Regions from separate parts of the Homo sapiens genome. Here region 2 is linked to region 1. Evidence: fine-mapped expression QTL. A gene starts in region 1. The other region holds a variant in brackets. All regions are shown on one strand. Distances are between the middles of the regions. Region 1 holds the start of CAMK4 (calcium/calmodulin dependent protein kinase IV). Region 2 overlaps CAMK4 (calcium/calmodulin dependent protein kinase IV).

What was found. PIP is the estimated chance that this variant, and not a neighbour inherited with it, causes the effect. A credible set is the group of variants that fine-mapping cannot tell apart.
Region 2: its variant is the best candidate, but not a certain one, in a credible set for the expression of CAMK4 in whole blood (INTERVAL, PIP 0.58).

Annotation. Positions count from the first base shown.
Region 1 is chr5:111,214,157-111,228,765 of GRCh38, reverse strand. It overlaps CAMK4 (calcium/calmodulin dependent protein kinase IV), which reads right to left and starts at 4,382. Exons shown (of 11, transcript NM_001744.6): 1 at 4,122-4,382. The coding sequence starts at 4,282. RefSeq lists enhancers at 4,144-4,193, 5,154-5,253 and a silencer at 4,304-4,793.
Region 2 is chr5:111,483,134-111,500,663 of GRCh38, reverse strand. It overlaps CAMK4 (calcium/calmodulin dependent protein kinase IV), which reads right to left. Exons shown (of 11, transcript NM_001744.6): 11 at 5,778-16,638. The coding sequence ends at 16,198. STARD4 (StAR related lipid transfer domain containing 4) reads left to right here. Exons shown (of 6, transcript NM_139164.3): 6 at 558-4,631. The coding sequence ends at 778. Among named protein-coding and RNA genes, the nearest start is that of STARD4-AS1, 20 kb to the left of the region's middle. The variant AAACT/T (reference allele first, on the strand shown) is at 9,234.

The DNA of each region.
Region 1 (14,609 bases):
CTCTGCCTCATAGCTTAATCTATCACACACAGATTTATGGCCTACAACAGCACTTTTCAAACTGAATCACAACACATTAGTGGGATGTGAAATCACATGGGTTCAGCCAAGTTTTTTTAACAAAATAGATGAAATCAAACAGCATATAATAGAAAATATTAAAGTGCATTGCTGGTAATAAGAATAAACACTGTTTTATGAAATTGTTTCTGTTTTATACACACACACACACACACACACACACACACACACACACCCCTTACTATGGAAATCTATTTGGTTCCTAAACAATAATACATATAGCAAGGGATCCTATATAATTAGTTTAATTGAGTTGACAAATAAATGTATTTAAAATTATAAATGTATACACATAATTGTGTTTACATAAATGTGACACATAAATGTATTATTTAAAATTACATTGCAGTGGGGAGGAGTATGCAAAGTGCCTAGCCTAAAGAAACTACAGTAAGTGGAATGGGAACTAAATTTAAAGAAAAAAAAGGTTCCAAAATAGTTTAACACATTCTTCTCTTGTTCTAATTATCTTTCATTTGGTTTGGTTTCCTTGGATTTGTATGTCTGGGAATACATCTGGTTTTCTTATCATCTTTTCTTTCAACATGGAACAACAGTGAGAAACTAAAGGTGAGACAACTGAAAACAGGACATGGGTTTGCATGCACAGACGAAATCTGCACCACCAAGCAGGCTGGGCCATTTCCTGTCATTCCATGTGCCAAACCACTGGGCGGGATCTGGACCAGAGGCAGCTCCCTTCTCCCTCAGAAAAGCCTTTAAAATGCCAGTTTCTCAAATCACTGGGCAAAAGACCAACTGCTCTCGAGGATCTGGAGCCCTGAATAGGATCATGGCCAATTCGTATTTTTAAGTAGAGTTGAATGTGTGTGTGTCATGATTTTTGTAAACTTTTTGAAAAACTCTATGAACAAAACAGTGTCTTCAAATGTGATTTTAGGAAAATTACTTTGCCTGATACTTTTAATTCACCCGTAACCCCTATACTCTATGCCCTCCCTGCCAAAAGAAAGTGAGCACATCTGTCTTGGTCTCAATGGCTCCATGTGGATCAGTGCTGCCAGCACCTGCCTTCGCCAGCACTATCCAGGGGCTTCAGGTGGATATAGCCTTGGGAGTTTAGCTCCCCTTGAGTTCCCAAACACATCCTCAGGGTGTATCGCCCCAGTGGTCACCGTCCAATCTTCTTGCAATCAGGAGTCACTACTTTACAACAGACAACTGTAATGGAGGAGCCAACAAATCACTAATTCTGGTGGAGACTGTCTACTTTCTAGAGCTAACCACAACAGCAACACGTAACACCAGAAGCACTGTTCTCTTAGTATATTAATGACAACTGCATTACTAATGAATTAGAGTCACACTAGCAGGTGGATTTGGTCCAAAGCTGAGAGTAAAGGCTTGAAACTGATGACCTGAGTTCAACTTGATCTCTAGTGTAGGAAGAAAGAAGATTTTAGTCACTCAGCCAATATCTACGATCATCATTCTGTTGCATTCTCTGGCTCTATCGATTCTTAATAATTATATCTAGAATAGTAGTTGATGTTTTAAGTTTATTTACTTAAAAATTTCTGATAATGAAAATGATACTTCTCAAAGTCTCAGCCAGAGTAAGCATGCACCCCACGAATGCTGCCATGTACAGAAAACTTACCTAACAATACGCTTTACTGCTGACAAACAGAGCCTAAGTAAGACATTTTAGCTTTTATTGTTCCTCAATGTAGTTTAACTCTGTGATCTTTTACAGTAATCATAAGACTAGATAATAGAGCGAGAATCTTAGCAATGTATAGACAGAGGGTCTCCAATAGGATGGGCTTAACTTACAATTTTTCGACTTTTATGATGGTGGGAAAGTGATAGCATTCAGTAGAAATCGTACTTCAAATTTTGATCTTTTCCTGAACTATACATGGTAGGATACTCTCTCTGATGCTGGGCACCGGCCATTAGCCACAGCTCCCAGTTAACCACAGGAGGGTAAACAACCGGAACTCTAGAGTGTTCTCTGTTGTCAGTGTTTTTTGAATATTGTGTTTTGTGTTTCATATCTCACCATGTCTACAAAATCCCATCTGTACACGGTATTTAACAGTTATTATAAAATAGGCTTTATGTTAGATGATTTTGCCCAAATGTAGGCTAATATTAAGTGTTCTGAGCATGTTTCAGGTAGGCTAGGCTAAGCTACAACGTTTGTTAGCACAGGTGTAGTAAATGCATTTTCAACTTCTGATATTTTCAACTACAGTGGGCTTATTGGGACATAACACCATCATAAGTTGAGAAGCTTCTGTATAACCGATTAATATTTGTCCTCCAAAATTTACTGCAACACGTAATTCTGAACTGAAAAATAAAAAACCCAAACTTCAAATTTCTCAGTTTTTTCCTATGCAGGCTACCATCTCATAGGGGTATACAATTGGCAGTTTATTTTTTTCCCATTTTTCAAATTAAAGTGAATTTCTTGAGTTTCATGACGATGAAGCTTATTCATAAAGACAACGTGTGTGGATAAGTCAGCCTATTTGAGGCATCTAGGGTTAATGTTACTCTGAAAACAGATGTGCTACTGGGACAGTCCCTGCAGCAGCATCAGGCACTTCCTCTACTACACAGTAGTTTATAAAACACCCAGTAAACAATTTTAAGTAGATCATCCCTTTACTCAGAGGTTTACATGGTTCCACTGTCACGCATCATACAATTAATAACAGGCATGTTTTGGACCTTACAAAAATCGACATCATTGTCCTTTCATTTCCACCTATATATATAATAGATCTTCAGATGAATACTGAAAAACTTGATCAAAAATGGATGTTTATGTATACATTATTCAGTGCTCAAATACTTCAAAACATTTTTAACAGTGACAAATCACTGAATTTTCATTCAGAAGTTTGCCTATTTTACACATCTATATTCAATGAGCCTTCAATAGTACTAGCAAAGTGGGGGGAGAGTGGGCAGTGATCATTACATCTTCCCACTAAATACCAACATCCAGAATCCTGCTCTGGATCCTCCAATGACTTGAAAAAATAAAAAGGCTGTTAGCAATACTATTTCCAGCAAAAAGAGAATGAAAAATGAAATTGCAAAGGAGTAGTAAGTACAGAAGCTGCAACTTGTCAACCGTTGAAATTACATCTTCAGATTCCCTATACTAAAGAGCCTGGATCTAAAATAAGTGTTGAAAATAAATCTCCTTACCTATGGATAACAGAGAGAAAAGACAAAAAAAAAGGAAGTAAGGGAAAGAAAACTATAATTTTCAATGGATACAAATACGAAAGCATATGGAATCATGCAGAAGGCCAAACTGCTACCTGTTTGGATCTTCAGAGGAGGGATAGGGGACATATCTGCAATCCTAGGGAGATGGTCTGTTGCATATATAATTTAAATAAATCACTCCAGCCCATGAAAGAAGGGAAGCAGCAGCATTCTCACTAATTACCACTGCCTGGATCCCATATGCTGCTTTCTCTTTAAAGCCACACTAGTTCATTATTCTGCCTTCAACTCTCTTAAATGATTCATTTCTCCCTTCACTCCTGAGCAGACTCTGCAGGGAAGCTAGTATTTAAGTTTAATTTCTCGTGTCACTTGCTTTGGAGAGCTTGACGAGGGGAAGGAGGAGGAATCTAACTTAATAATTCTGTCTTGATTTGGAGGGGCACCCTCCGGCCCCCACCCTAAACAATAACTAGACAAACAGGACCCTCTGGCAAGCTATAATCGTGAGCAAAGATATCAATTGGGAAAGCAGGGCCCACGTGCGGTGGGAGCTGTCACCCAAGGGAAGTGGCAGCCTGCGAGAAGGAGGGAAGGTGGGAGGGAGTCGGGCTGATCCTACAGCTGCACCGGCCTAGGCGCTCTGGTGGGGTGGGAAGGACTCGAGCCGCACCTGAATGAAGGTTAGCTCTCTCTCAAGACACTAACTAGGTAGGGAGAAATCGAAGGGCACGAAGGCAGGCTCCCGCACCCTCCGAGCCGTCGCTGCGAGAGGGACAACCCCCAGTGCACGCCGCGGGCTTCCCCAGCCGGAGCCCGCGCCTTACCGTCCCAGCTCCGACTCCACCTCGAAGAAATCGCTCAGCGCATCCCTGTTGGAGCCGTCGATCCAGTAATCCGGGACGAGGCTCGCGGTCCCCGGGGCCGCACTGGCGGTGACCGAAGAGCAGGACGAGGCGGAGCAGGAGGGCACCGTGACTTTGAGCATCTTCGCAGCGGGACTCCGGAAGCCGCCGCCGCCGCCGCCGCCGCTGCCCGAGCGAGAAGCCGGCCGCCAGCCGCCGCCTGCGAACGCAGGAGCGAGAGAGAGGCGGCGTCCTTCACGCGCGCACACGCCCACCGCCGCCGCCCGCGCTCGCAGGGACGGTGGGCGGGGAAGGGGGCGAGCCTCTGCGAGAGGGCGCGAGGGGGAACCCGGAGTCGCCGCCCGCTGGAGGGAGACTAGCTGCACCGCTGAGGAGAGAGGCTCCCTCCCCCTCGCTCCTTCCCTCCTCACCCGCCCTCCTCCCGCGCCGAGCCTTTCCCGCCGCCCTCCCTCTTTCCTTTCTCTCTCCCAGGCTGTGGCTGCCGCGGTGCCGGCTAGGGCGGCTCCGGATGCTGGAGCTTGGGGAAGGCACAAGGACCCGCGCATCATCCCACGCGCCCTCCCGCGGGGACCGGAGCTGGAGGGAGACCGTGCGCAGCGGGACGCTGCTCTGGGATGGCGGGCGCCAGGCGTACCCTGGCAGCACCTGGGTCCGGGCGGCCCCGCCGGATAGCGAGAGAGGGACCTAGGTGGTGGTGGCGCAACTCATCCCTCCTTGAGCGCGTCTCCGTGGCGAGTCCCTCCCACCTAACACCAGCTAACCAGCCATCCTCTGTCAAAGCTTATATTGGTGGCCGGGGAGGGAGTACTGTGGTCGCCGATCCCTCAGGGCTCCTGTGCCTGGACCCAGTGAGAGCTGGAGGAAAAGGAAGCGCCCAGGTCCACACTGACCTGACTCACCTTTGAGTGAAGTCTTCAGTTGGAATAAATGCTGTCGTCGCTGCTGGTGGCACTGCCTCCTCGGCACTGCTGGAGCTCCTAAAAGAGGAGATACTTGGCTGTGTCGAGTTCAATCTCAGCATCTGAAGTGGCTCAGAATTACAGTTCTAGAAGGGCCTTGTGGAAGCCAACTAGTAAACCCTCTGCCTTAAGGCAGGACCTGTCCTCATTCATGACAGGGAAGACTGCTACATGTAAAAGCCCTTTTTCTCTTCCCAAGAGATGTATCCCATGATAAGCATTCTTATGTCCTGTCCATCAGCTGTCATGGCTCTTCTTCTCAGTATTAAACATACATCACTTAAACTACCCTTGAACTTTTTTCTTTTCAGATTTCAGCAAAGACGAACAACAATTAGTCATGTTCTGATACATATCTATGACAGTTATTATACCACAACTCATTTCTGGCTAAATAGCTCCAGGCGCTTTCACCTTACTTCACAGGTGTTACTTTTGGCCTTTTTTTTTTCCTGAGTTTCCTCCAACATGCGCTAAACTCTTCCTAGTAAGTCTCCATTCCTGATAGCACCAACCATTAATATGGTCCAATATTTTAATCTAATTTATGGATTTATTATTCTTAAAAGCCTGCCTGCTATACTGGTGAACAAACAACCAAAAATATCCAATCAAGTAGTTACAGGAATGTGATTCCTAGCTGATTGGAAATTGAAAATATATATAGTCATGCATCCCTCAACCACGGTGAGAAGTTGAAGAGATGCATCCTTAGGCGATGCAGTTGTAAGAACATCATAGGGTGTACTTGTACACAACCAGATAGTATAGCTTACTACACAGCTATGCTGGATGGAATAGTCAATTGCTCCTAGGCTTCAAACCTGTACAGCATTTTACTATACTGAATACTACAGGCCAGCGGTCCCCAACCTTTTCGGCACCAGGGACCAGTTTCTTGGAAGATAATTTTTTCCACAGACAGGGGGTGGGGAAGATGGTTCTGGGATGATTCAAGTGCATTACATTTATTGTGCACTTTAATTCTATTATTATTACATTGCAATACATAGTGAAATAATTATACAACTCACCGTAATATAGAATCAGTGGAAGACCTGAGCTTGTTTTCCTACAACTAGACGGTCCTATCTGGGGGTGATGGGAGACAGTGATAGATCATCAGGCAGTAGATTCTTATAAGGAGTGCACAACCTAGATCCCTTGCATGTGCAGTTCACAATAGGGTTCATGCTCTTACGGGAATCTAATGCTACCACTGATCTGACAGGAGGCAGAGTTCAGGCAGTAATGTGGGAGATGGAGAGCCCCTGTAAATATAGATGAAGCTTTGCTTGCTTGCCTGCAGCTCACCTCCTGCTGTGTGGCCCAGTTCCTAACAGGCCACAGACCAGCCCATGGCCTGGGGGTTGGGAACTCTGCTGTAGGCAACTGTAACACAACAATAAGTATTTGTGTATTTAAACATATCTAAACATAGGAAAGGTACAATAAAAATATGGTATAAAAGGTAAAAAATGGTACACCTGTATAGGGCACTTACCATGAATGCAGCTTGCAGGACTAAAAGTTGCTCCGTGTGAGTGAGTAAGTGGTGAGTGGATATGAAGGCCTAGGACATTACACTACTTAGACTTTATACATACTGTATGCTTAGGCTACACTAAATTTATTTAGAATAGTTTCTTTCTTCAATGGTAAATTAACCTTAGTTTACTGTAACTTTTACTTTATAAACTTTTTAATGTTTTAAAACTTTTTGACTCCTTTATAGTAATGCTTAGCTGAAACACAAATACAAGGTATTTTATACAAAATATATTGTAAAGCTGCACAAAAATGTTTTCTATGTATCCTTATTCTATAAGCTTTCTTCTTTTTAAAACAACTTTTTTAACTTTTTGAACTTTGTTAAAAACTAAAACATACACACACACTAGCCTAGGCCTACACAGAGACAGGCATCGATATCATGTCTTCCGCCTCCACATCTTGTCCCACTGAAAGCTGGAAGGGCTTTAGGGGCAATGACATGCATGGAGCTGTCATCTTCTATGATGACAATGCCTTATTCTGGAATACCTCCCGAAGGACCTGCCTGAAGCTGTTTTACAGTTAACTTTTTTTATAGCTAGAGGAGAAAACTCTAAAATAACAATAAAATGTATAGTGTAGTAAATACTATACTAGTATTTACTGGTAACATAGTATAAACTAGTAACATAGTCATTTATTACCATTATAAAGTATAATGTACTATACATAATTGTATACACTATACTTTTATATGACTGGCAGCACAGTAGGTTTGTTTACAGTGGCATCACCATAAACACATGAGTAATGTATTACACTGTAAGATTAGGCTATGATGTCACTAGGTGACAGAAATTTTTCAACTCTATTAGTCTTGTGGGACCACCGTTACACATGCAGCCCATTGTTGACCAAAATGTTGTGTGACACATGACTGTACAAAAACTATTCCTCATGATAATTTTATAATGATGAGCACAAACTCAATGTACAAATGCTCTAACAAATAACAAGTATATGCAAATTCATACAAATTCACTTACATACTAGCTTGTTTGGTGAAAGACTGAAAATGCCCACGTGATGTTACTTTTCAGAGAATAGATTCACTAATCGTGTTGAAAAATCAAGTTCACAAGCAAAGCAAGATAATAAAGCTCTCTAAATTCTAGCTTTGACTCAGTAAGTTTCCCTTGGCTTGCACTGACCAGTGGACAAATGGGCATGAAATAGTTGCTAGGCCATTTTTATTCTCACTTCTTTGAGGCAAGTCCAGCAGCAGCAGCACTGCATGTAAATGCTTGTCTGTTCTTAGCAATTCTTTTACAACATAAGCCCAAAGCAAGCATGTTACATTAAAGGAGATGGTAAGCCTTTTTTCTCCTGCTACTTTAGGTAACAATGGTGCAAGAAAGCCATTTCATGGTACAGAGGTGATTATAGAATTCATTTTATATTCAGCATAATTTTAGTCATTTGACATCTATGCTTTTCATAATTGACTTTTGTAAAAATGCTATTAATTGAAGTTTAAAAACAGGATATTTTGTATAATCCATGCAGCTTACTTTCATTTGAGACATAGATAAAAATTAATAAATATTAAAATAGATGAAACAGGAATTAAATATACAAAATGTACCATTACTTCTTATCAAAACTCAACTGAAATGACCAGAAAAGGAACAGGGTTATCATCCCACAAAAAGAAAGAGAGAAGTGATGTCAACTGAATCTTGAACACGTAAACAAACAGTAACAGAGGAGTTAATAAATCAGAAACCTAGATTTGCAATGGGAAAAGCCAATAAGAAGAAATCTAATCCCTACTATAAAATCAAGACATGTTCAGAAGTTAGAGTACCAGATAGTTCTCAAGGTGAGGCATAGAACAGAGAACAAAACATTGGTTAAAAAATTTTATAAAAAGTTATTAGGCCCCTTCATCCAAATTAGAAAGGAAGAAGTCAAATTGTCCTTGCTTGCAGATGATGTGATCTTATATTTAAAAAAGCCTAAAGACTCCACCAAAAAAAAAAAAAAAAAAAAAACTATTAGAATTGATCAGTCCAGTAAAGTTGCAGGATACAAAATCAACATATGAAAACAGTAGCATTTCTGAAATAGAAAATGAAAAAGTAATCCCATTTACAATAGCTACAAATAAAACAAAATATCTACGGATAAACTTAACCAAAGAAGTGAAAGATGTCTACAATGAAAACCGTAAAACATTCATGAAAGAAATGGAAGAGGACACAAAAAAATGCAAAGATATTTTATGTTTATGGATTGGAAGAAACAATATTTTTAAAATGCCCACACCACCCGAAGCAATCTACACATTCAATGCAATGTCTATCAAAATGCCAATGACATTCTTCACAGAAATAGGAAAAATAATGCTAAAATTTATGTAAAACCACAAAAGAAGCCAAATAGACAAAGCAATCCTGAGGGGAGGCCAGGGCAGGGGGAAGCTGGAGGTGTCATATTACCTGGTTTCAAATTATAATACAAAGGTAAAGTAACCAAAAGAGCATGATACTGGCATCAAAACGAATATATAGGCCAGTAGGACAGAAGAAAGCACCGAGAAATAAATTCATGCATTTACAGTCAAATCATTTTTGAGAAAGGCACCCAGAACATACATTAGGGAAAGGACAGTCTCTTCAATAAATAGTGCTTGGAAAACTGGATGTCCATTTGCAGAAGACTGAATCTAGACCCTCTCTCTCACGATACAAAAATCAAGTCAAAGTGGATTAAATACTTCAATCTAATACCTGAAACTATGAAACTACTAGAAGAGAATATTGGGGAAACACTCCATTTCATAGGTCTGGGAAAGATTTCTTGAGTAAGGTCTCAAAAGAACAGGCAACCAAAGCAAAATGGACAAATTGAATCACATCGAGCTAAAGTTTCTGCACACAGCAAAGGAAACAATCAAAAAAACTGAAGAGACAACCCACAGAATGGGAGAAAATATTTGCGAACTATCCATCTGACAAGGGTTTAATAACCAGAATATATAAGAAACTCAAACAACTCTACAGGAAAAAAAATCAGATTGAAAAATGGGCAAAAGATCTCAACAGACATTTCTCAAAAGAAACATACAAATAGCCAACAACTATATAAAGAAATTTCTATTCATCAAAGAAATGCAAATCAAAACAAGGAAATATCTCACCCCTGTCTTTCTGATAAATGACTTTTATCAGAAAATCACCTTAGAGTGAAACCTACCATTAAACAGGCTCAGTGACCCAAAGCTTCTAATGAGATACAATCTTTCTAATAAATGACTTTTATCAGAAAGACAGGCAATAATGAATGTTGGTGAGAATGTGGAGAAAAGGGAACCCTCGTACACTGTTGGTGGGAATATAAATTAGTACAGTCACTGTGAAGAACAGAATGGAGGTTCCTCAAAACAATAAATAAATTAAAAATAGAACTAACATGTGGTCCACAATCCCACTGCTAAGTATATATCCAAAAGAAAGGAAATCAGTATATCAAAGATACATCTGCACTCTCATATTTATAGCAGCCATGATAAAGAATCAACCTGAGTATCCATCAGTGGATGAATGGATAAAGAAAATGTAGTATGTATACACAAGGAAATATTATTCAGCCATAAAAAGAATGAAATCTTGTCATTTGCAACAACACAGATGAAACTGGAGGACATTAAGTGAAATAAGCCAGGCACAGAAAGACAAATATTGCATGTTCTCACTCATATGTGGAAGCTAAGAAAAATATTGAACTCTTAGAGATAGAGAGTAGAATGATGGCTATCAGAGGACGGGAAGGGTAATAGCAAGGAGGGGATAAATAGGGGATAGTTAATGAGCACAAAAATACAGTTAGATACAGGGAATAAGATCTAATGTTCAGTAGCATAATAGGGCAACTATAGTTAACAGTAACTTATTACATATTTCAATATAACTAAGAGTGGAATTGGAATGTTTCTAACAACAAGGAAGTGATAAATGCTTGAAGGGATGGATATTCCAGTTACCCTGATTTGATCACTGCACACTGTATGTTTGTATAAAAATATCACATGTATCCCATAAATAAGTGCAAATATTATGTATTCATAACAAATTCTTTTTTTAAATTAAAGCTTTTAGGCTTCCTGGATTACCTCTTCTAACAATTCACAGCCAAAAAACACTCCTACCAAAGCCTAGAAGAAGATAATATATTTAATTTTGTAAATGTTGAACAAGGAACGAAATATGTTTTAGGTCAGAAGATACAGCTGAGGCCATATTGAAAAGAGAGATTAAGTGAAACTCTGCACGATAAGTAGCGAGACCCCTGAGGGCACACGCTCCCAGAATGTTGAGAAATAGGTTTATGTCTATTTTGCCCCTAGCCATACAACTATTGGTGGATTTTTCACTGAACAAAATAAATAACCCAAGGAGGGTTATATATATAACACAAAATACTACAAATAATTCCCTCTATATGATATTCAAGGAAAGGCAAAACTGAAGTGACAGAATGCAGATCAGTAGTTCTCCAGGGCTAAAGTGGGAGGGAATCAAATGCAAAAGACTCTAAGGGATTTGGGGAGTGATGGAAAGGTTTTATATCATGGTTATGGTGGTGATTACAGGATTTTATTCATTTGTCAAAACTCTGAATTATACTTTTTAAATTGATAAATTTTATTGTACCTAAGTTACATCTTAATAAAAACAATTAAAATTAAAGGCACAGCCAGTGCTCTAACTTAGGTAAAATTAGAAGTTATTAATATTGGAAAGAAAGAAGTTAAATTGTTGTCATGTACCGATGACTTGACTATTATATAGAAAATTCTAAAAGTTGGTTTAGACTACTACAATTGATCAGTGAATTTGTCAAGGTCACAATATACAAGGTCAATATAAAACAATCACAATATAAAACAAATACTAATAGGAAATGATAGGAAAATTCACTAATACCATTTCATTTACAATAGAATAAAAAGCATAAAATACTTAGGAATCAATTCAACAGAAGATGTCCAAATCATCTACAGTTAAAATTACCAGATATTGCTAAGTGAAATTTTTGCAAATCAAAACTACAAAGAGAAATAATCTCATACCAGTCAGAATGACAATTACTAAAAAGTCAAAAAATAACAGATGCTGGTGAAGCCGCAGAGAAAAGGGAACACTTATACATTGTTAGTGGAAATGCAAATTAGTTCAGCCACTGTAGAAAGCAGTTTGGAGATTTCTCAAAGAACTTAGAACTACCATTTGGCCCAGCAATCCCATTACTGGGTATATACTCAAAGAAAAATAAATCGTTCTGCCAAAAAGACACTTACACTTGTATGTTAATTGCAGCACTATTCATGATAGCAAAGGCAGAATCAACCTAGGTACTCATCAATGGTGAACTGGATAAAGAAAATGTGGTACATATACACCTTGGAATACTACACAGCCATAAAAAATAATAAAATCACGTCCTTTGCAGCAACATGGATGTAGTTGGAGGCCATTATCCTAAGTGAATTAACACAGAAGCAGAAAACCAAATATCACGTGTTCTCACTTATAAGTGGGAGCTAAACACTGAGTAAACATGGACATAAAGGTGGGAACAACAGACACTGGAAACTACTAGAAGAGGGAGGGAGGAAGAGGTGGATGGGATGAAAAACTACCTATTGGGTACTATGCTCACTACCTGCATGATGGTGTCAACCATGCCTCAAACCTCAGCATCACGCAGTATACCCATGTAACAAACCTGCACGTGTACCCTCTGAATGCAAAATAAAAGTTGAAAAAAATCTAAGTGGAGAGATATATCATGCTCATTGACTGGAAGACTCAGTATTATTAACATAACAATTCTCTCCCTAACTGGTATGCAGACTAATCTTAATAGGCTTTGTTTGTAGAAAATGAAAAATGTATGCTAACATGTGTAAAGAAATACAAAACATCTGGGATACCAAAACAGTCCTGAGAAGAACAAAGTTGGAGAACTCTATCTGACCTTAAAACTTACTATAAACAGACAGAAATAAAGACATTGTGATATTAGTATAACAAGAAAAAAAGGGGTCAATGGTAAAGAATAGAGTACAGAAATAGAATCATATACATGTGGTCGATTAAATTTTGAAAAAAGTATCAAAGCAATTAAATAGGCAAAGGTAAGTTTTTACAGTAAGTGGTACTGAAATAATTAAATAAACACATAGTAACAAATGAACTACAATCTTTTTCTTATACCACAAAGATTAACTTAATTTAAAATAAACTTTTTATACAGAAGCTAAAACTATCATAGCATTTCTAAAAAAGACATTAAAGAATATCTCCAGGAAATTACAGTATATAAAAATATCTTAGACAAGACACAATGAGCTCTAAATATAAAAGAAAAAGATTTTAAAATTGCGTTTGTCAAGTTTAGAAACTTCTGTACAGCAAGAGACACAATCAAAAAAGTAAAAACAGAAGCCACGAGCTGAGAGTAAGTTCTTTCAATACAAATATTTGACAAATAATATGCATCCAGAATATACAAACCCTTAGAAATCAATAAGAAGAAAACTAAAAATATGATTAAAAGACTTCTAGTGTCTCCTCAAGATATAGAGAATTGGAAAGAACAATATTTTCCACCCTTACAAAAACAACAAAAAATGCAAGGTCAAGATTTTCTTGAAAACTTCAGAGAAGTGAAGTCACAGGAAAACCAACTAGTCTAAAATCTAAGGAGAAAAAGATGTCTGTGAGGAAAGATGGCACTTGCTAACCAGGAACAAACACAGCCAGAGACCAGTTAGAATTTGGTTAGAAGAGTTAATAAATTGGGGAGGTGTATCAGTTTGTTTTCATATTGCTATAAATAACTGCCTGAGACTGGGTAATTTATAAAGGAAGGAGGTTTAATTGACTCACAGTTGCGCGTGGCTGGGGAGGCCTCAGGAAACTTACAATCAGGGTGGAAGGCAAAGAGGAAGCAAGGCACCTTCTTCACAAGGCAGAAGGAAGGAGAAGTGCTGAGTGAAGGTGGCAGAGCCCCTTTAAAAATCATCAGATCTTGTGAGAACTCACTCACTATCACACGAACAGCATGGGAGAACTGCCCCTCATGAATCAATTACCTCCACCTTGTCTCTCCCTTGATATGAAGACTATAATTCAAGATGAGATTTGGGTGGGGACACAAAGACTAACCATATCAGGGAGTGTTGAGTGTGCGTTCACAGGAGAATGCAGAGCCCCTGGGAGCCACATACTCCCACACATAGGGGGAGTTCACATCTTCTTGCAGTCTTTTCTGGACGGACTCTACTGGGCATACAAAAAAAGGATGGGTGAGAGTCCTGAGAAAGCATGCTTCATGGTGCAGACCTGGAGGAGAATGGTAGCTACTGTGAGGGGGTACAAAACCAGCCAAGAACTTCTCTCTTATCTCCCCTGATAAATAGAAGCCTTCATATACAAGTGGTTTTGGCAACAAGCATTGTCACCTTTAGGCACTGGGACAAAGGCAGTGCAGCTGGGGGAAGGGAACAGGGAAAAATCCCCTTTTCCTGGAGGGAGAGGCAGGCATATGTGCTGAGCACAGAACTACAGATGGTGAAAAGGCAAGAGTTCTGAGAAGGTCACATTCCCAAGACCCATGTATATAGGGCCCCCTAAGACTGAAGTTTAATCAAAACAACAGAGACTGTCCCCTCTGCTCCCTAGTACCAAGCTAACACGCATCAGATAAAAAGTAACAGTGGGGTGCTGCTAGGAAGTTGTAAGAACGGGGAGACAGACCCTCTCAACAGCATAATGCAAATAAGAGAACTAAAGCTGAGTGTGGACCAGATAGAGGAACCTGCTCAGGAAAACCAGGCCCCACCCAAAACTAAAGATGTGGTTAGAGAAATCTGAAGCATGTGGTACACCAAGAATAAGCATAGCATGAATAAACTGCAAATCCAAAC
Region 2 (17,530 bases), 270 kb before region 1:
GATTTGGTGTGTCTTAGAATATTCTTCCTTCCTTGAGCTGTGTTGTATTTTTCTTTTCAAGATTAAAAATACTGCCATTGGAAGGCTCCTGTTTTCTAAAACGTACCTATAGGTAAATTAATATTATTTTGTATATAGTGTATACTTAAGTTAGCAGTTGTAAGTAAACATCTACTTGTTTATTCTTAACTAGCCAGTACCAAACTATAATATGGTAGTCGCTGTGGGGAATAGTTACGGTACCATGGATTTGATTTTTGGCACCTCAAGGCCTGGATACTACAACCAAGATTTGTAGCTTCCAAGGAGTACTAAGATGATATGATGTCATGTATTCTGAAAGGATTAAAAGTTTCCCCATTACCTATCTGCCAACCTCTTGTCAGAATTCTCCTTGGTAAGTCTCTTTTTCACTCTGCCATGGTCACTTTGGGATTTAATTTTCATCTATATGGATAATAATAAATATTTAAATAAGAATTCTGGTAATATTTTAAAATGAGAGTTTTATGTCAGTTATTGCTATTAATAGTGCTATTTTAAAAATTGCCTTATAGGAATAAGTCTTGACTGGGATGAAAAGAGACCAGAATTTGTTCGAGGATATAACCATCCCTGTGGTTGGTTTTGTGTTCCACTTAAAGACAACCCAAACCAGAGTCTTTTGACAGGATATATTCAGACAGATCTGCGTGGGATGATTCCTCAGTCTGCGGTAGATACAGCCATGGCAAGCACTTTAACCAACTTCTATGGTGATTTACGAAAAGCTTTATGAGAGGCAAAATACATTCAAACTTGTAGTACTACAGATCAACTCTCTCAGCTACATGGCCTGTAAAAATCATTGATTCCACTTTTCTGCATAGCCGGTAGAAAAATTTGAAATGTTTTTGGTTCACTAGTACAATGTTTGGTTTTATTCCTAAAGTAAATAGCTATCTAAGAGAGGGCATTTTCACTTTTTTTTTTTTAAATTTTGAGACAGGCTCTCACTCTGTTGCCCATGCTGGAGGGCAGTGGTATGATCACAGCTCACTGCAGCTTTGATCTGACCGCTCAAGGGGTTATTCTACCTCAGCCTCCTGAATAGCTGGGAATACAGGTGCACGCCACTATGCATGGCTAATTTTTGTTTAATTTTTTGTAGAGATGTGGTCACACTGTGTTGCCCAGGCTGGTCTTGAACTCCTGGCCTCAAGTCATTCCCCACCTTAGCCTCCCAAAGTGTTGGGATTATAAGCGTGAGCCACCATGCCTGGCCCCAATTTAAAATGTGGAATTCAGTTGGTGTCCAAGACTTATCTTGAGACTCTTAAAAGCATCAGTCTGTAACTAGAACAAATACAGTCTTAGATTTACCCAAGTGCCTAGATATCATTTTATAATGATTAGAATTGAGTATTGTGGGTCCCCTAATTCTGTGGGTGCCTTAAGTGAGAATTTCTAAATGATTTTCACATTCTAAATGACTTTGGGTTTTGAACTCTCCATCTAGTTTACTTCTAAAATGGGAACTTGAGGCAATTCAGGTATCCAGGCAAATCTTTGTATATATTTTTTTGTGTACATGCACACATCTCGAAATCCATTTCCGTGTTTAATGTTAGTTGTTTATGTGTTAGTATTCCTGTGTCTACTGTTTTGTTGTTGTTAATATGGGTAAAGTGAGCCCTGAAATACATGCTAAACAAGACATGAAATGCAGAAAGGTACATAGTGTTTCAAGTGCATGGTAGTTTGATCTGTGTTTTACTTTATTGTGTTTTCTTGAGTGTAAAGAAAGAATAAATCAAAGTTCTTCATACCCATTTTGACAAAGTGGAACAGTGGAGCTGTTTTTTGCTTTTGTTTTTATTTATTTTTTGCCACTGGTGATGATAGATTTCAAAAAACAAAAGGTGGCAGCAGCACAATGTTCATGGTGAATTATCTCATAGTATCTAGATTGATCAAGATCTGACAGAAGGAATGCACAAAGGATTCTATATTCTTAATGATTTATTAATTACCAGGATCCTTTTCTAAATTGAATGTACTTTTGAATTACTAGGTTTCTTCTTTTTTTTTGTTCTGCAATAGTGAAAGAAAACTCAGTAGTTTAGTTTCAGTTTCTCATGGAAATTGGTAAATGTTAGTTTTGACTTCATCTATTTTTTATTTGTTTTTATTAGCGTAGAGTAGGAAGTCTCATATTCTACTGTTCTATCTAGGATGGTGAAATTCCAAAGGTGCCTAACTTGAGTAAGGGATTTGTGACAAGATAGTACACATTACTATAAGGGCTATTATTTCCTGAACTGGATGTCCCTAAAAGCAAATAAACTGCCCACTATCTCTACTCTAGTGCTCTCTTTGTCCTTATCAACATATACCTCCAATAAGTAATTACATAATTCACCGTTAAACATGGACCCACTCTAGGTAAAATTACCCTCATGGAAACATTTTCACTGTGAGAATGATGAATTTAAAAATTATGTTTGAATCACCTAAAATGTATGTGCAGCTTCTAGATGGCCCCTTAGATCTGCTGGGCTCTAGCTGTGTACTTTAAAAAAACAAAAACAGCTTTATTGATATATAATTTACATATTATGTAATTTACCCACTTTTAAGTATCTAATTCAGTGATGTTTTAATACATATGTAGAACTATGCAGCCATCAGCACAATCTGGATTTAGAACGTTTCCATCATTCCAAAAGATTCCTTTTGTCTTTTTTGCAGACTCATACCTAACACAAATCTAAAGTTTATCACTGTTGCCAGGATAATTACAGCAGGTTATGTTTGGTTTCATTTTTAAGAGTGGAGGTGTTCATGATTCTAAGCTCAGGAATCTTGTGATCATGTATTAAATATGTTATCTCATACTATAATGATAAAAAAGCTTAATGATGTGGGTTGGGATGGATATTAACATAAATAATTGAGTCCGCTGCTTCTATAGCAATGCTGTAGGATAGAACAATAATGTAAGTGATATATGTAATTAAAAAATTCTAGAAGCCACATTAAAAAATAAAAATAAACAGCTGAAGTTAATTTTAATATTTTATTTAACTCAATACATCCAAAATGTTATCATTTTAACATGTAATTGATGTAAAGATTTATTCTGATAGTTTGTACTATTTCTTGTACTAATTTTTTGAAATCTGGTATGCATTTTACAAATTTGGGCAAGCCACATTTTAAGTGCTCATTAGCCACATGAGGCCAGTGGATACTGTATTGAATAGCACAGTCCTATAGCATATTTATTAATTTGTCTTGTAGTAAGATGAAATAGACAATAATACGGAATAATATCTTAAATGGAAATCTTTGTTAGTCTCTAGAGCCTTCATTGCTTGATAAATAGGACATCTAAACTTTAGATATAAATCAGTTGTCAATGAGATAAAATTATTGCCAGCAAATATTTTCCTTCAAAGATAAGTAACTTTTGATATGGCAGTTGGTGAAATGAAAGAATATAATCTGCCTTCTTGTTAAATGGTTGACTATTCTGTAGCTTGTAGGTAGTACGTATTAGAAACTTGTGTATGTGGGAAATATTTGGCATAATACTGTTTTCAGTATATAGTAGCTATTTTTTAAGGAAATTAGTTTCATACAAGAAAAAGATTATTATAAAAGTGATACTTTTGCATGAAATATTAGTTTGTGTTGATAACTCTTAGTTAACCCTTAAAGTTTAAAACAGTACTCAAAAAAAAATAATGAGAATCTAGTATTCTGTAGTTAACTAATCTATAAGATAAATTGCTAAAGTACTAGGGAGCTTGTAAATCTTAAAAATCTTTTTATTTCAGTGTTCATTCAGGTTGGATATATTTGAAATTGTAGATTTCTATCTGTACAACATCTCCTAGTTAATAGAATTTTTTTCCTTCCCCTCCCTTCTCTCTCCTCCTCCTTTTCTAACCAAAGGGCATTTTATCAACAATCATGCTGAATTCAATTAATATCTCAAGCTAAAAAACTATGTAATTGAGGTTGTATCTGGAGAAGATGGGAAAACATTGTATAATTTAAGCCCTTAATTGTCTGTTGAGCTTTTAGGGCTGAGTAATTGCCTTTCATACAAATAAAAGCTTTAACTCTTTTCTCAAGAGTGTACCACCGTCCTTAGAATCAGGTGTTTTAAATCCAGTTTCTTTTAATTAAATGGGACTGTAGTGATCCCTACCCTGTAGAGAAATCAACAGAACTAGAGAAGCTAAGGGCTTGATCAGGTTTCCCCTAGAACCTGTGTTGCCTGCCTGCTGTATCTTCCATGTCTTTCTTATTCAACTTCTAGAAGTAGAGAAGGTTGGGACTTGAGTGTAGAAGAAACATCAGAATAATTTCAAAAAACAGGAAGTTGGAACTATAATTTTTAAATTATTGTATTGTTTTTACGGATTTTACATGTATAGTTAAATATTAAAATTCATCTCTTGCAGTTCAATAAAAGCTATAGTATAGATTTTATTTTTAAGAAGTTTATATAATTCTTTTGTGAACCAATATGTAAAACTAGAATATTTATTAAACTAATAATATGTATTAGTATCAATAAAATATGTATTTATTTTTAAATTGGTATGAAACAAAATAAAAATTTGTAGACACTCTTAAAATTGGTCATTGATATTATCTTTGTAATTTAACATTAAGTACTATTTAGTTTCATATGCCTGAATTTAAAGTATGTAATTTAACTTCCTGAATTCTTACAAAAGGAAAATATAAACCTGGAAAGTCAAATTAACAACACACATGCTGATCTCTCCTGCCAGTGTCTCATATAATATTAGCTGTTATACAATACTGCTGAAACTTTATTTGCTATTATATATTCAGAACAAATAATATATTGTGCCTTTGTAAATTATGGACAGGATTTATTGTACACATGTTGAAATAATTGTGTTACCTTGATTAGGAATTATGATATTTTGTTTGGAATTGAAAAAAACTAAAAGTGATTACAAGGACACCCACGATCTATGTTATAAGAAGGCAGTTAGGGATGCTGTGGTAAGTATGTAATAGAAAATATGACTGTGAAGCAGGGAGTTACTTTCCTCATTTAATAAAACATCTGGTACTATGGTTTGAATATTTGTGTTCCCCTAAAACGCAGATGTTAAAATCCTAACCTCTAAGATAATGGTTTTAAAAGCTTTGAGAGTTGATTAGGTAACCCTAATGAATGTGATTAGTACCTTTATAGAAGAGGCCCAAGTGAGATGCTTTGGTCCTTCTGCCATATGAGGACACAGCAAGAAGGCATCCTCTGTGAGGAAGCAGGCACTCATAGATACCAAACCTGCAGGACTGTTCTTGGACTTGTGCCAGAAATGTCAGAAATAAATTGTGATAAGCCACCCAGTTTATGGTATTTTATTATAGCAGCCTGAATGGTAGTGAGAGCACTGGACTAGGAGCTGGGCAACCCTGGTCTATTCCTTCTTCAGCCACTGTGACCTTAGGTAAGCCATTACCTCTCTTGGGCATAATAGCTCTCTTTAATAAAGTGAGCTTATTGGATTAAATGATTACTAATATCCTCTTTTAACTCTAGTGATTTTATAATTTTACTCAACAGAAAATATGTGAGCACTCAGTGTTAAAAAAAAGGCTATGAAACTCAAAGTATAATTTTATCTGAGAGAATGGGAAAACACTCAAGGAGTGATTCAACTGCACATTTCAGGTGTAAGAAAAATGTCCATGGTGTCTCTCTTGAATTGTGGTAACATTTGAAATCACAGAATGCAAAGTTTTGGTGGTTTCTTAAATGATTTATTATCGTATTCTACATGCCAACTGCTTTACATTTCCCAGCAGCAAGATATAGGCTTCTTTGGGCATGTTCTGACATGTCTGTCTGAGTGAACTTACACCAAGTAACATTGGCCCTCAGGTCAAATTTCTACAATTAGTCTTCCAACACCCATTTTTTATAATGTCACGTACTCTTCAAGTTCCTAGAAAACACCCCCCAACCCCCCCCAAAATTTACATATTTAATTACTGAATTGGGTTATCCAACCTGAATCCAAGAAGAAGCCACAGCTCTCATGTGGTCTGCCTCAGGCTTTGGGCAGCTGAGACAGCCCATGACTGTTGTGTCCCATCTGTAAGAAGTAGAAACTCACTGGTCAGTCACCACCATTGAAGAATACTGTAGCTCTACAACAGCAAATGGGCATGATTTTGATGAATTCTCTACAAACATTTTCTGTATGTACATTTATGCCCAGGCCAGACTTAATACATTTACCTAAAAATATTGTAATATATCTTTGTATTAAGTAGTCAATAGCACCATATTGTCAGGTTTTAAAAATGAAGTGTTCACAGCTCCATTTTCAGTGCTCTTCAAATTAGAAGTTGGGAAGGTAGCCTATAATCTTGGTTGTGTAAACTTAAAATATTTATACTTTGTCCTCCAAATCTTACATGCTCTTGTGTTTGGCTACTGACTTGCAGCCTAAACTATTGGAGATGTAGCTTTCCTGTATGCAGTGCTGTTCCATTAATCTAATCCTCTATGCTGCTATTGAGCTGCTTATATCCTTTTAGTCCAGAAAGCTTTCAGCAACCCAGGAATAAAAATTTCTCCTTTAGGAAAGACTAGAAAACACATCCAGATAATGTCACATAAGCCTGAAAAGCCCAAGTAGGAAGTTTTCCTTTCTCAATGTCTGCTAACTTACGATTTTTGTAACCTCACAGTAATTCTACTTCTCTTCCATCATTCAAATGACAGTCAATCTTGCTCCCTATCTTCCTTCATTTGTCTTCAGGAATAATGCCGCCATTCACTAATCACAGGCATTATCTGAAATAAAGAGGCAAGACAACTAAAAGTACACATACTAAATGTCTAAATGTCTCCCAAGTTTCTTGAAGATGGATGTAAAAATACTGCCTGCAATAAATGATATCAAAAGGAACTTACAAAACAGTATGTAAAGGGACAAAAGGGAGAGATGAAAAAGGACTTGACAGGAGCAGGTTGATGTTTGGAGAAACAAGTTCTGATGGTTTTAAATTTTGTTGCCTGAGACTTAGCTTCCTACAGGTTGTCTTTTAAAATCTAAACTTTCAGGTAGAATTCAATCAGAAATCCTGGGGGATTGCCTATTCAGGTCAAATAACTGAAAAGGTTGAAAAAATGAGGTCAGCAATAACCTTGATTCGGTCCTCCACTGGCAACATTTTAGGAAGTACGTGATTTTTTGGAGTCATGAGACATTTTTCAGAAATTGGAGTCTTGGAAAACTTGAAATTATCTGTCATACTATCATTTACTCTGTTTTGTCAGTGGAGACCTGGCCAATTCAGTTTTTGCTTTCAGTGACTGAGGCTTTGCTTTAACCTGGTGACTCCCAAAAATATCTTCGATGTGTTTGATGATTTTTATTTGGCTTAGAAGCACAGCAGATGAGCCAAGTATGTCAGGCTAGATGCTCTGAGGAAAGGCTGCACATGGACCTACCCAGAGTAAGGAAGGAGTAAGGAAGTCTAATTCAATTTTGCACGAGATGAGATTCTGTTGCACACTGGCAACACTTCCCTGTGTATTTCAGCCTTTCACATTTAGTATTCTTCCTTCACCTCTGCCTTTCATTTTTCCACTCTATGATCAGGCCGGTTCTCAGCCAGACATGCCCCCTACTTCTTCCCTACCTGCAAAGATTCACCCATCTTTCACATACAGCCTGTGTTTCCATAAAGCTTTCCTTCATCATTCCTGGCAAAAGGGAGCTTTTCCCTCTTTCCATTCCTAGGGCTTATCATCTGCCTAAATGCAGCATAGGTTATATATGTACAGGTTGTATCTATAAGGTTGGCTTTTCTCTCCAACTACAAAGCTCACTCCTGGAGGATAGCATTGGATTTAATTCATCTTTGACTCCTCCATGGCATATAATAGTTTCTCAGTGAAAGTTCACAGGGAAAATTGTTCCTGGAGGGGGCTGCTCCTGGGAAGCTTCAAAATTAGAAAATCACTTCCTTACAATGTGATTAGAATGTAGGCCTAATATCCCCTAAACTATGTTGTTTAGTTTCTGGGAGAAACATTAGCTATTGACTTCATTCATTTCTAAAGTATTTGTCCATCAATGATCGTCTTCAAACTGAGCAATCAAGAAGATGGGCAGGGGAGAATGTGGAATCCTAATCTACATTTTGTTATCTTTCCCCTCACTCATTCCAGTAAAGTCTCTGCTACACATAATGATGCGGACTGGCAGAAGATTGATATCTTTTGTTCTGAGTTCTACAGCGAGTGTATCCTAGTGGCTATATTATATTATTGATTGCTGTAATAATAGAGCAATAATATTGCTGTATATTATTTAGAGTTATAATTTTAGGTACTCCTAATAAATTGATATTGCACTTTCTACTAAATATTTCATTTGTGACCTTTTGGTTACAGATGTTGAAAGTCAAACGGAAACACAAAGGTCATGAATGCCTATGTTTTTCTCCATATCTCGGTCACTAGCTTCCCTTAAGGTGGATATTTTGGAATGAACAATTTCTCTGTGACAGAAATAGACTAAGACAAGGGCCCTTCTTGGATTTCTAAATATGTAAGGAAAGCAAACGAAAGCATTTACTCAAGGCCCTCTCTTTTCAAAGAAATAAAATACGTAACACTCAGGAAAGCGTGGGGATTAGAAAATGGCTTTCTTACATAAAAGAGCTGGCTGTTTGCGTATTCCCTGAGCTATTGTTGAGAAAGTCATTGTCATATAATGCCACAAAATAAAACATAATATTTCCTAAAATGATTAATGAAAATTCAATTGATATAAATTACTTCAGAATATTATGAGAGATTCAGAACCATAGGGATCTTCTTATTTCTTAGCTTAGTAAGTAACAGCTGTAGATTGACTTAAATGTGAGCAAATGCCAGTGAAAGATGTCATTTACATAATTTTAAATGTAAGGATCAAATTTCTAAAACATGCTCAAAGTGCTAGAAATCTTTTTAATTCTACTCTCAACCAACTCAATTCATACTCTAAATTTCTTTTCTTCAGGAGTGATGCAATTTTGCGTTTTTAGTTCTGTAGGAAAATTTCACTAAGTTGTATCTATCTCCAGCACAATTATTGTTGTGAGAGCATCTGCAACATAAAACAAAATTTTCCTAACTTTCTCAGAAGCAAATGGGAATACGAACCTTAAGCTAAGGAGAAAAAAAAAAAAAC[AAACT/T]GGAATATAGGAATCTGTATTCCTGCAAGTCACCAAAAAGGCATTGGGGTGCCATGAAAACCCAGGGTCATTGTTTTACTGTAAGGGTCCAGATACACATTTTAGGCTTTGCAGTCCATATGGTCTCTGTTGAAAGTACTCAACTCTGCCTTGACAACATAAAAGCAGCCACAAACAATATGTACATAAATGAGCATGCCTGTGTTCCAATAAAAATGGGGCTTTGGTAGATTTGCTCTGTGAATCATTGGTTGCTTGAGTTCTGAAAAATTTTTGGAGATTTGAGTTCAGTTCTTGGGGAATTATGTGGAAATTACTCTTTAAAAAAATATGCACATAAGTTTTAATGTGTGTATCTCAAAGACGAGAGATAAAATGAATGACTGACATTCAAGTAAGAGCATAAATAACTAATTTGTTTACTAATAATCTTTTACTGATACCTTTAGTTCATTGGGCATAAGAAATCACCTAAACCCCAACTCAGCTGTACCCACTCACTAAACTCACAAGACATTGAAAAATGTTGAAAGAAACACAGCAACATCTGTTGGACATGGAATGGACTACTATTACTATGTTTAGGCCTAACTCCTTAATAAATGGATATGTTACAACGTTCTTTTGGCTTATAGAGGACTTTTAAAATATTACTGAGACTTAAGGGTGCCGTAAAAAGAAAAACAAAATTACAAATTATGAATATGCTATTTGTTCTCTACGCTGCTGCATATTAACTGTATTGTAGGTATATAAAATAGGTCAGGTTAAAAGGAGGCAGTATGAGATGATAGTTTTCAATTTATGGTCATATATATATATTTTTTTTTGACGGAGTTTCGCTCTTGTTGTCCAGGCTGGAGTGCAGTGGCATGATCTTGGCTCACTGCAACCTCTGCCTCCCGGGTTCAAGAGATTCTCCTGCCTCAGCCTCCTGAGTAGCTGAGATTACAGGAGCGTGCCACCATGCCCAGCTAATTTTTGTATTAGGGGTTTCACCACGTTGGCCAGGCTGGTCTCAAACTCCTGACCTCAGGTGATCTGCCAACCTCGGCCTCCCAAAGTGTTGGGATTACAGGCATGAACTATCACGCCCAGCCTATAGTTATGCTTAACTGTACCTTTACAAAACAGATGAACTGCTCTACATCTATCAAGGAAAGGACAAACCTAGTAACTTTTTATCATTCACAAACTGTCAAAGTTGAGAGAGAGCTCAGGGAAAACAACCGCTTTCAAAAATTAGAATGCAAGGTCTTGTATTTAAGTAGCCTGAAATAATCTTTTAAATGGAAAATAAAGATTAATCAGAGTGAAAATTAAATGTTATTTTGACACAATGAATCACAAGCAACGATTAAATGTATATATTCTGTATCTATATGTTTTCCAGGTCAATCTTCAAAATGAGCTGAAAACAACTGTTTAGAATAGTGTGATTTTGCAGTCTTTGCATTGCTGTTTAGAGTATCAAACAAAATTCTGGGCCACAGATACGCTGCATTTCTCCAGTCTGGGATGCTCCTGTCAGGGCTTTAGAGATGACCATAGGGATGGAACAAAACACTGATCTGGGATAAGGCATAGCAAACCAAGACAAGAAAAGAGTAACCCACTGGTGGAATCTCATTTTTCCATTACTGACCAATGACAATATACCAATATTCAAATTGTATCACTTTCAATCAGAGGATGAGAAGAGGTTTTCTCCCACTTGCCTCATTTGAGCTCAACCAGGTAGATGCCTGGAGTCTTCTCTAGAGCAACATCTGATTCCTTTGAAGGAGTAAGACAGTTCACTTTCTCGGCAAGGCTTCTATTTTGCCCTGGTGGACCTCTGAACCAGACAACAGGGAACAGACTGAGTTCTTGAAGGAAGTTAGTATCACACAACCCAATCGTCTTGAGTACATCACAGAGCATTTATGAAAGTTGGAATTTTAAATAACCAAACAAATTAATCAAGTTTGTTATTGCTCTCCAAGATAAGTATAGACATGGCCAAGCTTTATGAGCTGAGATTATATTATCTGATCTCAGGTAATAGCCACAAGGAGTAATAATGACAAAATTTGCTCTTAATATATTGGTCAAAATATAGAAAGAGGAAATACTGAACTTGGTTACTGTGGGTGGTTTGCTGATATCTCTCCAGTGGTCTCTCTCCTTTTTTTTCTTATTTGCCAAGGAGACAAAAATTCACCCTGAGTGTGTCAGGGGAATAAAAGGACTTTGAAAAATTTTATAGGAAATTATTGGGTACATTTCTGTTTATCATGTGGTTATGAATATTGTAATACCAATAGTGAAATAACATGTACACAATTTTTTTAAATGCAGACACACATAACATCTAACCATTAAACAATGTTCAACCAGTAAATGCTCAACTACTAGCAATGACCCTGATCAGGAACATATCAGTGATGAACATAAGGAAATCAGAATATGGACTAATAGGCAGGAATTACAAGGAAATTACAAATCCTTTTACATAGGTTACTATCTGGAAATTTTGCACCATCTAAAGTAAATCTAGACAACATGACTGAATACTTTGCAATGACAAATAAGTGACATAATGGCACTATGATTAATTGACTCTGCTATGTATATTTGTTAATTATACATTGAGTCAACCATCAAGAAAATGCTAGTGCTGATTCACTTTGTTGACCTTTTTTTAAAAAAATTTGCTTTGCAAAAACAATTCTAAAACAAAATAAATGGCTTACTAAGTTTATCCTTTGCCTTTTCTGGCATTTACTTTTCTTTTTCCAACTTGAAATACAACCAGCTGCTTCTGTGCAATAAAAACTGATTTATGAAACAAAATGGCTCTCTCCAAATCTTCAGCCTGTAGGCAACCCACCATCAGTTACCATGCATGTGAAACAGGACATAGGGATTGCTAAACATTCTGAATTACAAAATATGTTTAAAATACTATGAAATTGAAGTCACAGTAAAAATTGTTCCTTTCTTTTTAAGTCTTCCACTAAAAATGACTATAGAACCTTGAGGATTATTCTAAAATCAGTATGTAAAAAATTTTCAAAAGTCTTTTGTTAAATCCATGTGTAATGGCAGTGTTGATTAAACCCTTCTAAGGAAATCTTAAAAAATGCCAGCTAATGGTCATATTCCCACTTTGAGGATAACTGGCATGATATCACCATCATTACACAATCTTCATCATGCAGATTTGGTATGGTTCATTAGATTTCCAGAAAGACATATTGCCTGTGATACAAGGATGGCATGAAGCTTAATCCAGGCCTCAAAATCAGATTCTATGTGCAGTTCTTCCTGAATGAAGACACATAGTTGGCTGAGAGTAGATTTTGGTAAGCAAGAATGCTATTGGCATCATGGCAGTACTCAGGAGACTCTAGGCTGTAGTCAAGACTCCAGGGCCCATCAGGAATCAGAGGGATTGGTCAGTAGATAATTTAGTAATGCCCGTTCTTTGAAGTCATGTTAGGAATCATTTCTCCTCTGAAGTAAATGAATGGGCAGGAGTGGTCAATAAGCTTTTACTCAGTGTGTAACATTTCTGAAACACTTTCTTTGTGGCCTCCCACCAGCTCCTCAATGTGAAAACTGAGGCCACTTAAATCTAAGCATAGAACTTCAAGTGTCACTTTGCTTAAAATAAAAAGTACTCTAGACTAGTGCTGTCTAATATGGTAGCCACTAGCCACATGTGACTATTGAGCACTTGATGTCCCAAAGGCCTAACATACACTCTTGATTTTGAAAACAGTATAAAAATAAAGAATTCAAAATATCACATTAAATTTTAATATTGACTATATATCGATAGAATAATTTGGATGAATTGGATTAAAAATACTATACTTTCATCTATTTTTCTTAAAATGTGACTAATAGAAAATCTTAAATGACATGTGCTTGCATTATATTTATATAATGCACTTGTTCTGGACAATTAACTTCTACCACGATATTATTCTAATTTTTACCTATTTATGTGTCCTGGGACAAGTGAAATTACAGTTTGAGAAAAAATACTGGATTCCAATTAGACTTTGTTAATGGGGGAAATAATTCAAGACTGTCCTTCATGGTTATAAAAAAAAACCTAGTTTATGCTATGTAGCTGAACTTATCTCAAAATAAAAACCCATAATGTAATGTGATAAGTGTTAGCTCTAAAATGTAAAATGTAATTTATTGTTTGCTGAAATTTGAATTCTTTTGCTTTGTGACTATATTGCCAATTAGGAGTGATGTTATGAAGTATTTTGTGAAATTAAATCTCCATTTGTCTACTATTATTTAGCTAAGTAATCTTTGAGATAGACAATACATTCCATTTTAACAAGCAATATAAACATTGGCTGTTCTTTCAAAAATGTTAACATAATTATCCTAACTTAGGATGTATGTATATGAAATCTTTGAATAATTTGACTGAAATGACCAACATTTTTGAAAGTTTGATTTGTTTCCTACTGAAACAATGAAATTAGTCACTATATAGTCATTATCAGAATCTTATCTTTAACATGAGTCAAAATTTAAAACTCCCATTGATTTTTTTAAAAATGTAGTTTATGGGTTTAAAAAGATAGAGGGAATTATCAACTCGAGTACTCACATGGAGGAATGGTAATATGCACTCATTTAAATGAGTAAATTCTAAAATACACATTGGGCATGGTATTTGCAACGTTGTTTCTATAGTTCTCAGGGCCAAACAATGCAGTCCGCCCTACTCTAGTGTTGAAATAATGTAACAACTGCCCTTGGAACAATATGGGGGTGGGCAGGGAGGAATGATGTGTTCTGATCTTTCAGCTAAGCGCCAAGTGCCACTTTCTAAAAAGACCCCCTTCCCTCTCTTTGCTCTTCCAACACGTGTGTGTGTGTGTGTGTGTGTGTGTGTGTGTGTGTGTGTGTTTCAGTCTCATGGTAAAAAGTACAACAGGAAATTGATCCTCTTAAATGGAAATCTTAATGCTTAACAAAGAAGACATTCTTAAAGGTTAAAAATAGCGAGCCCCTTATAATGGACAACATGGGAATTCTGAGAGGGAATAATTAAATGAGGAAGGAAGGAAAGAGGGAATAAGAAAAGTGCTCTCTACTAGATAGTACAAATAAAACAAAACAAAAAATAATCTTCTGAGCCCAGATGATGTGCTTCTTCAGGGGCTCCATATCAGTGACCTGTCAGATTCTTAAACTATGAAAGATAAGAAGTCCTACCTTGTTTTCTTCCCATGAGAACAGTAGTAGAGAGAGATTTGTGATTGAAAAGAAGAATGTCTACTGAGGTCCAACAGCCTCTACAAACTGGAGCTTTAGTTTCGTTTTCTAATTTAATAGTTTTGAGGGAGAGCCAACATAATTTAAGATCTCTTTTTTAACAAGGATTTTTATGTGATAGTCATTTTTATTGTCTTTATTTGGTCTCTGAAAATAATTATTTTTTAAAATGAATTCTTTTTTAAAATTGAGAAAACCCACCAAAAATGTGACACATAATTAATCTGATAAAATATTCATTTCAACTCAAACTAGAAATAAATTGGAGATAGTGCAATTTCTATAAGGGGAAAGTGTTTCTATGAAAGTCAAAGAGAAATTAAACTTATTCTGGGAAAAATCATAATAAAATATCAGGTCTAATGTTCCAGCTTTTTAAGAGTCTGATTTGAAATCAGTATTTTTCTTTATTTTTGTTTTTGTTTGTTTTTTAAGGTAAATAAATTGCATTGTGCTAAATTTATTGGCAGCCACATTCTCAACACTACATTGTAAAATGTGGGTACTTTCATTCCAAATACGAGAAAAAGACATACTAGCTTTTCATAAATAACTTTAGTTTATAAGTGATATGTGTAGATAACCATCAATTGGATAAAAAAAGAGCTTTGATAAACAATAATGTTTTCTTACTCTATTAAAGTCAATAATGAATAATCTTAAAATGGAATATTATTCCTACTCTATGAAGACATTTTGGCACTAACCTGTGAAATAGAATTTTCTAAATATTTGCAACTTGGTAATTATAGAGTTTATCCATTAAAATGTTCTTATCTGTAAAGTTGTATAAATTCATGAGTAAATACAATTTTATCTGGAAAATGAAAAGGAATCAATCTTATCTTCATCAGTTTAAGTACAGTCTTACCTTCTTTTCTTCCCTGTTTATTACACCCTAAGCTTTGTCTATCAGAAAGTCATCTTATTGGAGAGCAGGTGAAGGAAAGAATGGAACTCAGCGTGAGTTTGTAAATTACTTCCTCCAGGGTTGTAAAATGGCAGAATCTTAGAACATTTTGGTTATTATTAATATAGTGTATATAAATAAGAATAAAATAAAGCATTCTCCACACAGGCTTTAGGGACATATGGCTTCATGGCCTTTAAGGATACTTCAATTTCTTACCATTGCAAGTGGATTTTTTTTTGCACATATGTACAACTATCATCTATAAGCATCTCCTTGTAAACAGTTTGAACACATCAATGATAAAAAGTAAAATGTTGTAAAAGTTATGGGAACATGTCTTTTAGCACTACCTAGTATTAGCTAAGCAGTAGTTCAAAGGAATTACTGCCTTGTGAAGAAATCCAAAGGATGTAGGATGGCTAGATTTTCAAAGCAAAAACAATTTGCTACTATTCACTTCAAATATGTGCCACTGGTTGCTGAAAATGTATGCTTTTAAGTGTTACGTTGTGTTAACTTGCAAGATTTAACTCATCGGTATTAGGTATCCATTACATGCCATAGAAGACACTATTATTTTCATAAAGCAGTCACATGCATTGAAGTTAGAATTACCAACTGGTATATATGTATGTTTTTTGCACCTCAAAAACAGAATCACTATAGTACATATCATGCTTCCACACCTTTCTTGCTGAAGGACAAAGTACATAAAATGCCGGTGTTTGGCTTCCAGATCTGAAGGAAGCTGTTTAGTACTCTGGCAGGATCACATCTTGCTGTGGAACTTCAAAACCCACAGCAGAGCTTCCTTGCCCTTCTCTGGGAGCTGCTGCCTCCTCCACAGTCTTCAGCTTCTCCTCTGCTAGGCCCTCCTCTAGTTCCAGGTCAGCCACCTTTATCCCATCCTCCACTGCCTTGGGCACCATTTTGGGGGCCTCTTCAGCATTTATATCTGCACCTTTAACTTTCTCTAAGGCTTGCACCTTCATCAGCTCAGCCTGTGCCCCCTTAACTGCGGCTTGGGCCCCATCGCCTTGAATTTTCTCTCCTTCTGGAATAGCTTTCATGTCCTCGTTGCCATCTTGGATTGGAGAAGGGTCTCGGCTAGCCTTGTGGCTCTCCTGGATGCTGCCATGGCTGCTGCTGGCACTTCCCAGGCGCGAAGAGGCCACCACAGCCTTCACCGCTGCCTGATTGGAAACAGAAGAGTGTCAAGTGTTACCTCTGCTTTAACACCCCACATCAGAGCTCAACCCCAGCTTTGCTTTTAGGGATTCCGTTTTATAGGTTAGCGTTAAAGTTTTCAAAGTACCTTATTCCTAGATTGTTTGCCAAAAGAAAATTTGGAGAATGAACAGTAAAACCTCTTTCATCTCAAATTAAATACAAATTAGTGTATTTAATCATCTGGACAACTGAAAGCCTGAATACATGTGTTTACCTGTGGCTAACCAATTTTTGAAAATTTTAATCTGTGTTTCCCGGTGTATTTGTTTTACGGAACACTAGTTCTGTGGACGTTAGTAGTTTTTACCACATGGATGTCATCATGGGGATATAAGAGTTCCGTGATCAAACTAGCTGGAGAAATCCTAGGTGAAGTCAATACTATTTAATTTGGGGTATTTATAATTAATTTGACCATGGAGCCTTTCAGATTTATTTAGTCTGTATCAGACCGTAAGCAATGGCTGCATAGGACCCTAATTCTGACCCCCAGCTGCTCTCTGAGATCCTCTACTTACATAGCTAGTCCTAAACACAGTTATGTAATAGAAAAGCTCCTAATCTCTATTCGATAGGTACTATATAAAATGATATATTTAGTTAAGTAATTTATTATATCACTTAAATTTTTAAATTTTTGTCAAGTAATTATTTATCTATATTAGGAAATATAGTTTCAAAAATTGTTTACCAAGTTTTACATATTCTGAAAGAAAACAACTTTCTGAATAAATATCAGTTTTCCCTGAACAATGCTGTTTAAGCAGTATACTTTAATTAGATGAGAAGCAGCAATAATATATTTGATATGTAAATATCAACTTATATAACAAATTTCCCTTTATTAATCATATA